Regions from separate parts of the Homo sapiens genome. Here region 1 is linked to region 2. Evidence: fine-mapped expression QTL. A gene starts in region 2. The other region holds a variant in brackets. All regions are shown on one strand. Distances are between the middles of the regions.

What was found. PIP is the estimated chance that this variant, and not a neighbour inherited with it, causes the effect. A credible set is the group of variants that fine-mapping cannot tell apart.
Region 1: its variant is the best candidate, but not a certain one, in a credible set for the expression of NUDT16 in whole blood (INTERVAL, PIP 0.60).

Annotation. Positions count from the first base shown.
Region 1 is chr3:131,245,972-131,250,362 of GRCh38, reverse strand. The region is part of intron 16 of NEK11 (NIMA related kinase 11); the gene reads right to left. Among named protein-coding and RNA genes, the nearest start is that of NUDT16-DT, 130 kb to the left of the region's middle. The variant C/AC (reference allele first, on the strand shown) is at 2,524.
Region 2 is chr3:131,379,685-131,384,050 of GRCh38, reverse strand. It overlaps NUDT16 (nudix hydrolase 16), which reads right to left and starts at 2,277. Exons shown (of 3, transcript NM_152395.3): 1 at 2,109-2,277; 2 at 1,736-2,005; 3 at 1-889. The coding sequence starts at 2,246. The coding sequence ends at 710. NUDT16-DT (NUDT16 divergent transcript) reads left to right here and starts at 2,576. Exons shown (of 4, transcript NR_038976.1): 1 at 2,576-2,718. RefSeq lists enhancers at 1,269-1,837, 1,838-2,407, 2,699-2,968 and a silencer at 2,289-2,588.

The DNA of each region.
Region 1 (4,391 bases), 130 kb after region 2:
GTTGAAAAATAAGACACCACTCTTTTCTCTGATACTTTATAAGTGGTCTGTTTGATTCTCTCTAGATATTTTTCTTATTTATTTGATAATTTTTTTCATTTTCTGTTCTTTTTTCCTGGAATTTCTATTTGTTAGGTGCTGAATCACGTAGATGAATCACTTTGTTTTCTTACCATTTATTAATTATATTCTGGTAAATTTCCTCACTTTTATCTTCCAAACCTTCTACTGAATTTTTATTTCTGCCATTAAAATTATAACTTTAAGAGCTCTTTCTTATTCTCTGTATGATTTGCTTCACAGAGGTAATACTTTCTCTGCTATCTTTTAGAATTTTAATATTGTTTCTTTAATTTTTTATTTTAAAAAACTTTTGTGGATACACAGTTTTTGAATTTTTATTTTCTTGTCTACATTGTCTGTTTCCTGAGTTCTTTGTATATTTTTGTCTTGATTTCTCTTTTTGGTTAGATTTCCTCAGATACTGGCTACTGCATTGCTACATGTTCACATTTAAGTGTGAAAAATTAAAAGTCAGTTTAAGCTCTTTCTGCAGATTCAGAGATTGTCAACTGGTAGCGCTCATTCCCACCATTTTGTTGAGGAAATGTTAACATCCTTAGGATTCTCAGGCTGGTAAATGCTGTCAGAGAGATATCTTCTAAAGAGTCCATGCTTTTCTGAACCTGAAGGAGTCCATGCTGTTCTTCCAGTGTTTCAGAAGCCAAGTAGGAATGGTATCTGGGGGTTTCATAACTTAATATGAAGACTTTCAACTCATCTCTTTGTTTTCATCACATCACATCACCCTGTCCTTTGGTGTCCCTAAAACCTTCCTGATTCAATGTTCCCCCAAATCGAGTCTGTTTTCTTCTGTCTTGACTGTGGAGAGGAATATTGTGGCTGTGCCAGTGGAGAGAAAGGCACCTGGGGTCTATTTCTCCTTACGCACACTGTCAACCAATCTTCCCATTTTAATCTTCACCTATACCATGCCTTCAGCGGTAGTTGAGGCCTCCAAATCTTGAGCATTTATGAGATTCTGTAGGTTCAGTTGCCTTGCTTCTCCTAGCCTACACCTTACCTTCCCTTCTTTCCTATATACATCTTAGGCACTTAGCTTTCAGCTTTCTCTGTTTTCTAAATCAGTTATCACTCATCTATCTGCTTTATATCTTTCTCAAGTTCACTAAAGCTCTCATCTGCTTCCATCTCCTCTTATGTTCTCTTTTTTTTCTGTAGGTTTATATTAGCTTTTTTCCTTTTTTGTCATGTTAGTGGGACTTCAAGCAGAGATAAATGTGTATTTTTACTCCATGATTCTAATGCTCATTTCTTTAAGGAAAAAAAAAACACCCAGCCTAGAAAGGAATTTGGATATTAACTATTCAATCAGTGCTATTTCAATTTTTAGCAGTGGAATCTATCTTTTTCCAGACACAATCTTTTATAGAAATTCAATTTATAAAACAGATAAGAGTGAAGATAATTTTGGTTGAAACTGGTAAAAGAACAGGGTCTGCATCTAATTTCTCCTAAAAATATTTTTAAATATTTCACATGGAAAAAGCAAAATAGTGCACAGAGATTCACACTATAATCTTTTATTCAAGAAAGAACAGAGGAATTCACTGGAAAAGGAAAGATCCCAGTGAAGAGAGGATGGGTAGACAGCCTGCATGCCAACAACTGACTGAGAACTGTGAGTAAAGCCCTAATATGGGAGAGTGAGAGAGACTGTTTCTCTGTGATCCAGCTTTCCACGGGGGGACCATGCAATCCAGGCCATGGAAGAGCACCTTGTCCCTCACCAGCCCTGGTGCTAACTTGGAGAAAGGCTGGCAGGCTGTAAGAAAGAAAGGCTCCAGGAAGTGCCCCAAGCATTTTTCCAGACCCAAACCTCAGCTTCCATGATATGATTATTATGTATTGTATGCCTATTTAAAAAATCTCATGTACTCCATAAACACAAACACCTACTATGTACCCACATAAATTTTTTAAGAACCATATGATCATCTATATAGATGCAGAAAAAGCATTTGAAAAAAGTCAGCATTCTATCATGATAAAACCTTCTATAAATGAGGCATAAAAGAAACCTACCTCAAAATAATAAAGGCCATATATGACACATCTACAGCCAACATCATACTGAATGGGGAAAAGTTGAAAGCAATTCTCCTAAACCTGGTACAAGTCAAGAATGCCCACTTTCATTACTCCTGTTCCACACAGTACTAGGAGTCCTACCCAGAGCAACCAAGCAAGAGAAAAATAAATAGCACCCAAATTGGAAAAAAGAAAGTCAAATTATCTCAGTTTGCTGATCATATGATCTTATACCTAGAAAACACTAGACTTCTCCAAAAACTGTTAGATTAGATGAACAAATTAAGTAAAATTTCAGGATACAAAATAAACATACCAAAATCTATGGCATTTCTGTACACCAATAACAATCACATTAAGAACCAAATCAAGAAGGCAATTCCATTTACAATAGCTACAAAAAAAAAAAAA[C/AC]CCTAGGAATACATTTAACCAAATAAGTGAAAAATTTCTACAAGGAAAACTACAAAACACTAATGAAAGAAATCATAGATGATGCAAACAAATGGAAACACATCCCACGCTCATGGATGGAGAGAATCAACATTGTGAAAATGACTTCAATGCAATTCCCATCAAATACCACCATCATTCTTCACAGAACTATAAAAAGAAACTCTAAAATTCATATGAAACCAAAAAAGAGCCTGCATACCCAAAGCAAGACTAAGAAAAAAGAATAAATCTGGAGGCATCACATTACCTGACTTCAAACTATACTATATTATAAGGCCATAGTCATCAAAACAACATGGTACTGGTATAAAAACAGGCACAAAAACCAATGGGTCAGAATAGAGAATCCAGAAATAAAGCCATATACTTATAGCTAACTGATATTCAACAAAGCAAACAAAAACATAAAGTAGGAAATGGACACCCTATTCAACAAATCGTGCTGGGATAATTGGCAAGTCACATGTAGAAGAATGAAACTGGATCCTCATCTCTCACCTTATACAAAAATCAACTGAAGATGGATCAAAGACTTAAATGTAAGACCGAAACCATAAAGATTCTAGAAGATAACATCAGAAAAAACCCGTGTAGACACTGGCTTAGCCAAATACTTCATTACCAAGAACCTGAAAGCAAATGCATCAAAAACAAAGATAAATAGATGGGACTTAATTAAACTAAAAAGCTTCTGCACAGCAAAAGAAATAAACAGCAGAATTAACAGACAACCCACAGAGTGGAAGAAAACCTTTACAATCTATACATCCAACAAAGCACTAATATTCAGAATCTACAAAGAACTCAAACAAGTCAGCAAGAAGAAAACAAAAAAAAATCCCATCAAAAAGTGGGCTAAGGACATAAGTAGACAATTCTCAAAAGAAGATATACAAATGGCCAACAAGCATATGAAAAAATGCTCAACATCACTAAGTATCAGGGAAATGCAAATAAAAACCATAATGTGATACCACCTCACTCCTGCAAAAATGGCCATAATTTTAAAAATCAGAAAATAATAGATATTGACATGGATGCAGTGAAAAGGGAACACTTTTACTCTGTTGATGGGAATGTAAATTAGTACAACCACTATGGAAAACAGTATGAAAATTATTTAAAGGACTAAAAGTAGATCTTCCATTTGAGCCAGCAATCCCATTACTAGGTATCTACCTAGAGGAAAAGAAGTAATTATATGAAAAAGATGCACATGCATGTTTATAGCAGCACAATTTGCAATTGCAAAAATATGGAACCAGCCCAAATGTCCATCGATCAATGAGTGGATAAAGAAAATGTGATACACATACACATGTGGTACACACACCACGGAATACTATTCAGCCATAAAAAGGAATGAAATAATGGCATTTGCAGCAACCTGGATGGAAATGGAGACTGTTATTGTAAGTGAAGTAGTTCAGGAATGGAAAACCAAACATCCTATATTCTCACTCATGTGAGAGCTAAGCTATGAGGACACAAAGGCATAAGAATGATACATTTGGACTTTAGGGACTTGTGGGGAAAGGGTGAGGGAGGTGAGGGATAAAAGGCTACACGCTGGGTACAGTGTTCACTGCTAGGGTGATGGGTGCACCAAAATCTCATAAATTGCCATTAAAGAACTTATTCATGTGGCCAAACACCAACTGTTCCCCAAAAACCTATTGGAATAAAAAAAATTTTTTTGTTTAAAGAAAACCTAGGGAAAACTCTTCTGGACATTGGTCTATGCAAAGAATTCATGACTAAGACTACAAGAGCATAAGCAACAAAACCAAAAATAGACAAATGGGACTTAATTAAACTAAAATGTT
Region 2 (4,366 bases):
TCTCAGGCATCCCAAAGATGAAAGCTCTAGAGGAGAGACACCAGTCCTCACAGGACTCATGTCCATGCTCAGTCCAAGGAGACCTAGCCACTTCCTTACCCTTCCTGCTCAGTTTCAGAAGAAAAGGATTGGGGATTGGTTGGGCTGCTCTCCCACCTTTTAAGAGCCAACTGCTTTGGTCACCACTCAAGACAAGAGCAAGTCTATTTTCAGAAAGCACAGGGGGTGCTCTGTTTCTCTATCCTCCCTAACAAATAGGCTGGGCTAGACCCTGGAGGGCAACCATGGAGGAGTGTGGGAAGGATTCACCCTTGCTTCAGAAGCTCCTTGCAATCAGGGACCAGGGTAGTGTGACAAATGCCACTTCAAGGTTAAACTGGACATGACCAGGGGAAGGTGTCAGGCTGTGTGTTGTTACAGATTGTATATTTGCATGCCTGGGGGTTACCAGGCTGTACGCATATAAACAGGGAGGAGGCAGGCTCTGAGAACCTGCCAGGGTGCCTGGGATAAGCTGTGACTTTTTGCCCCTGATGCCATAAGTTGGAGGGTCCTCTGCTCAAAACATATGGTACACACTTCTCCTTCTTTTCATCTGGTATCATGTATCATCTCTCAGATCCAATAAGAAAACATTCCCACGTCCTTCCCTCCCTCCCTAGTACCAAGGTCCTCATCTCAGTTTTCATGGGTCCATGGAGGGCTGCCTCTAGTGATGAGCTGGAATCTTAAGGCCTGAAATAGAGCCAGACTGCAGCAGTCCCAAGTCCTGGAGAGCTTCAAGTAACTGCTCCCGCGCAGAGCCAATAAAGGAATTCTCCAGGAAGGTAGGCAGGCCTCCTACACCATCCCGCAGGGTATACAGGGGCACTCGCACCAGGCCCAGCACCTGTAAAAGGAAGGAGACAGGAGACACTAGGGCCCCAGGTGGCTCATTCCCTTAACTCCATCCTTTCTCCAGCAGATCAGGCCTCACCCCTTAATACTCCAGCAGAACCAGGCCCAAGGCTCACACCTCACTAAAGCCTAGTGGCCCAACCTTCTGCAGGAAAATGACCCAAAACATATTATCTAGCTCTATCAATTAATCTTTCCCACATCTGCTTCTAAACCTCTAGTGGCTACTGCCTCAAAGATGTATTCATACCCTTTCACCAGTGGTTGTCAAAATGTGGTCCTCAGATTATTTGCATCAGCATTATTTGGGAACTTTTGAAAACTACAAATTCTCAGGTTTCCTCTCCCCCCGCCCCACCACCAATGCAGGAATGCTGAGAGAAATCGCTATTTTAATAAGACGCCCCGATGATTCTGCTACCTGCCAAATTTTGAGAACCACCTTCATACATAATCTATCTACTAGCCCTGCCTGAAATATCAGGGCCACATCTCCTACACAAGAAAAGCAAACCCCAAGAATAAAACCTAGGTTGCCACACCTAGATAATGTGATAATCTATCACACTGTCAATAGGGAACAGCAGAGAGACATGGATGAGTGTGTTCTAGAAAGGATCTCTCCTGGTAAAGGGTGGGAAAGACCTTTACAGAAAGCCCAGGTTGGCAGTACTAATTCAGAGTATAGATGATCACGATCCCAACTCCACCAAGAAAGCTGGGGAGAGGGCAAGGTCAGAGGGGCAAAGACTTTTCTCCAGGGATGCTTTCTTGGGGGAGAGAAAGCTTTGGGAGAAGAGGAAATTGGGAAAGGGACAGAGTCCCAGGCTGGTCCCACCTCCAGCCCGTGGTCCTTGGCGCGTGTTGCGCCGGCCTCCACAGCCAACAGCTCCTCGAGCGTCAGACGCTTGGCATAGAAGTGGGCCACAACGCGTGGCCCTGACCCGACGTGGGAGCTGCGGTAGTCAGTGCGCTCCACGCGGAAAGCGGCAGCCGCTTCGCCCAGCTCCTCGCGCAGCTCGCGGTTCAGCCCGTCCTCTAGGCTTCTGTCCTGCGTGTCCACGAATCCGCCGGGGAAGCCCAGGCGTCCATCGAAGCGCATCTGCATCTGCGGGAGGGGGAAGCGGGGATTGGCAGGGGCGCCCCAGAGGAGACCACCAGAGAGGGTGCGGGGCTCAGGCAGAAAGTGGCCGGGCGCGCCCCCTTCTCACCAGTATGGCGTAGCGCAGCGGGATGCGGCCGAAGAGCATCCCAGGGTCCGGCGCGTAGAGGAGAGCGTGGCACGCATGACGCCAGCCCGACCCCAGCGCCAGGGCCTCGCCTAGCTCCAGCCTGCGGGCTCCGGCCATGGCCGGACACTGCTCCTCTGCTGTCCCGAAGGCCCAATGGGCAGAGGGGCGGGTCTCACCTCGGACCAATCCGAGCCTGGGCGGTGCTGCAAGGCCCAATCCCTGCAGGGATAAGGGGAGGAACCTAGGCGCCTGGGGGCGGGGCGCCGCGACCGGTGCGGGAGGCAGCTAATCAGGGCGGGGCTTGCAGACCGGGTTGAAGTCCAGGGCCCAGGAACCCTAGGGTAACCGAAAGCAGCCTCTGGGTTGGGCCTGCGGTGGGGCGGGGCTAGAGGTGTGGCCGCGCCCTAAACCTGGCGCAAGGCCGGTACCTAAAGGCTCCTGGGAGCCAAAAGAGCAAGTCAGGGAACTAGCTTTGGTTGGGTTCGGTGGTACACAAAGCACAAGGCCTGGGTTGGGGTTAGGAGGAAATGAGACTTGCGGCGGGTCGGGGCTGAAGATGTGGCAGCGCCCTGAACCTGGAGAAAGGCTGGTACGTAAACGCCTGCGTCGCAATCTGGAGTCAGCTGGAGTGTCCCGGCAGGTGAGGAAGAGCTGGGGCGCTCAGTTGAGTGCTGGGAGCCAAAGAAGTAATAACTACCTTTGGTTGGGTGTGGTGGTACACAAAGCACAAGGCCTGGGTGGGGGTTAGGAGGAAATGAGGCAGGGTTGGCCTCAGACACCAAGGCCTATCCTAGGGAAATGGAGATGGACAGGCGCCATGGTCTGACAACTATCTTGAGTGGTGAAATTGAGGGGACTTGGTGACTGAGTGAATGGGGAAGAGGGAGCGCTGGGCTAGTGGTGGTTCCGAGTTTCCTGGATGTGGTGTCATTTTCTGAGAGGGGGAGAGTAGGAGAAGGGTGAGCAGTGATAAGTGTAGTTCTAAGGAATTGGGGTGGCCATAGGCAGTGGGCAGCTGATCGTGGGGGTCTGACGCACAGGGAGTGGCACATAGAGAAGTCACAGGGCAGTGAGATTTTCAGGGGAAGGGTGGGGGTGGAAGGAGCTGTGAGTGAAATCCTGTGGCACAGGACTGGGAGTGAGGAGGGGTGAGAGATAGAAGAAGCCTCCTAGGCTTTCTAGTCTTTCCCTCAAACCCCCTCAGACCTCTGAGCTATGAAGGAGGGTGGGTTACCCTACCACAAGGGCAGAGGCCTACTCAGGGCCTGATGCTGAGATGCAGGATCCCTCACTCCAGGCCAGGCCTTCCCCACCCTGCAGAGCGCCCCTACACCAGGTGTCGATATTGATTATGCAATAGAAAGCAGGAGGCAGCTCCTTGAGGGGGGCTGGGCATAAACTCACAGCCTGTAAGTGACGGCATATGGTGGGAAAGAGTCCGGACCCACCCAGAAACAGGTTTGTGACCTTAACAAGTCACTTAACTCTCTCAGATCCCAGCAGCTCATCTGTTAAGTGGAGATGATACCAACCTATTAGGGATGTTGAGATATGTTAGGCACTTAGAACAGTGCCAGGCAGAAAGTAAATGTAGCCATTCTTGGAGTTGAGGGTTGGGGCACAGTGCTATGTCTTACGTTGAGGAGCCAGGGCTGGGCACATACCTATAATCCCAGCACTGTGAGAGGCGAGGTGAGAGGATCATTCAAGGTCATGAATTTGAGACCAGTCTGGGCAACATAGCGAGACCCCGTCTCTACAAAAAATAATAATAATAAATAAAGACCCAAGTGTTGGAACTGAGCTGCACTCATCACGCTCCAGTGTTTGAAGGAGGGATGAGCTGTATGACATCATCTTTCCTAGCTTAGTCTTCTGCGTTGTGGGGCAGGGATATTATCTAATAACATGAAGCAACTGCATTAAAGTGATGAGTCTGTAGGTGTGATACAATTGTCACTGGCCTGCTAGAGTTCCAGGGGGTTTGGAAATAGCCCTGCTTTAACATTAGAGTCACCTCGCAAAAAGCTTCTAAAAATTTTTAAAAGCTGCCACTTTTTCCTACCACAGACCAGTTGAATCAGAATGTATGGGGTCCTACAGGGACATATGCGGTTTTTAAAATATGTTTTAGGTAACTAATAACCAGGGTGGAGAACCGGGGCCTTCCCCCTTCCACTAGCATTCCAAAGGCGACTTGGTTTTTCTCCTAGATAGGCTACCTTTAATGATTTAGG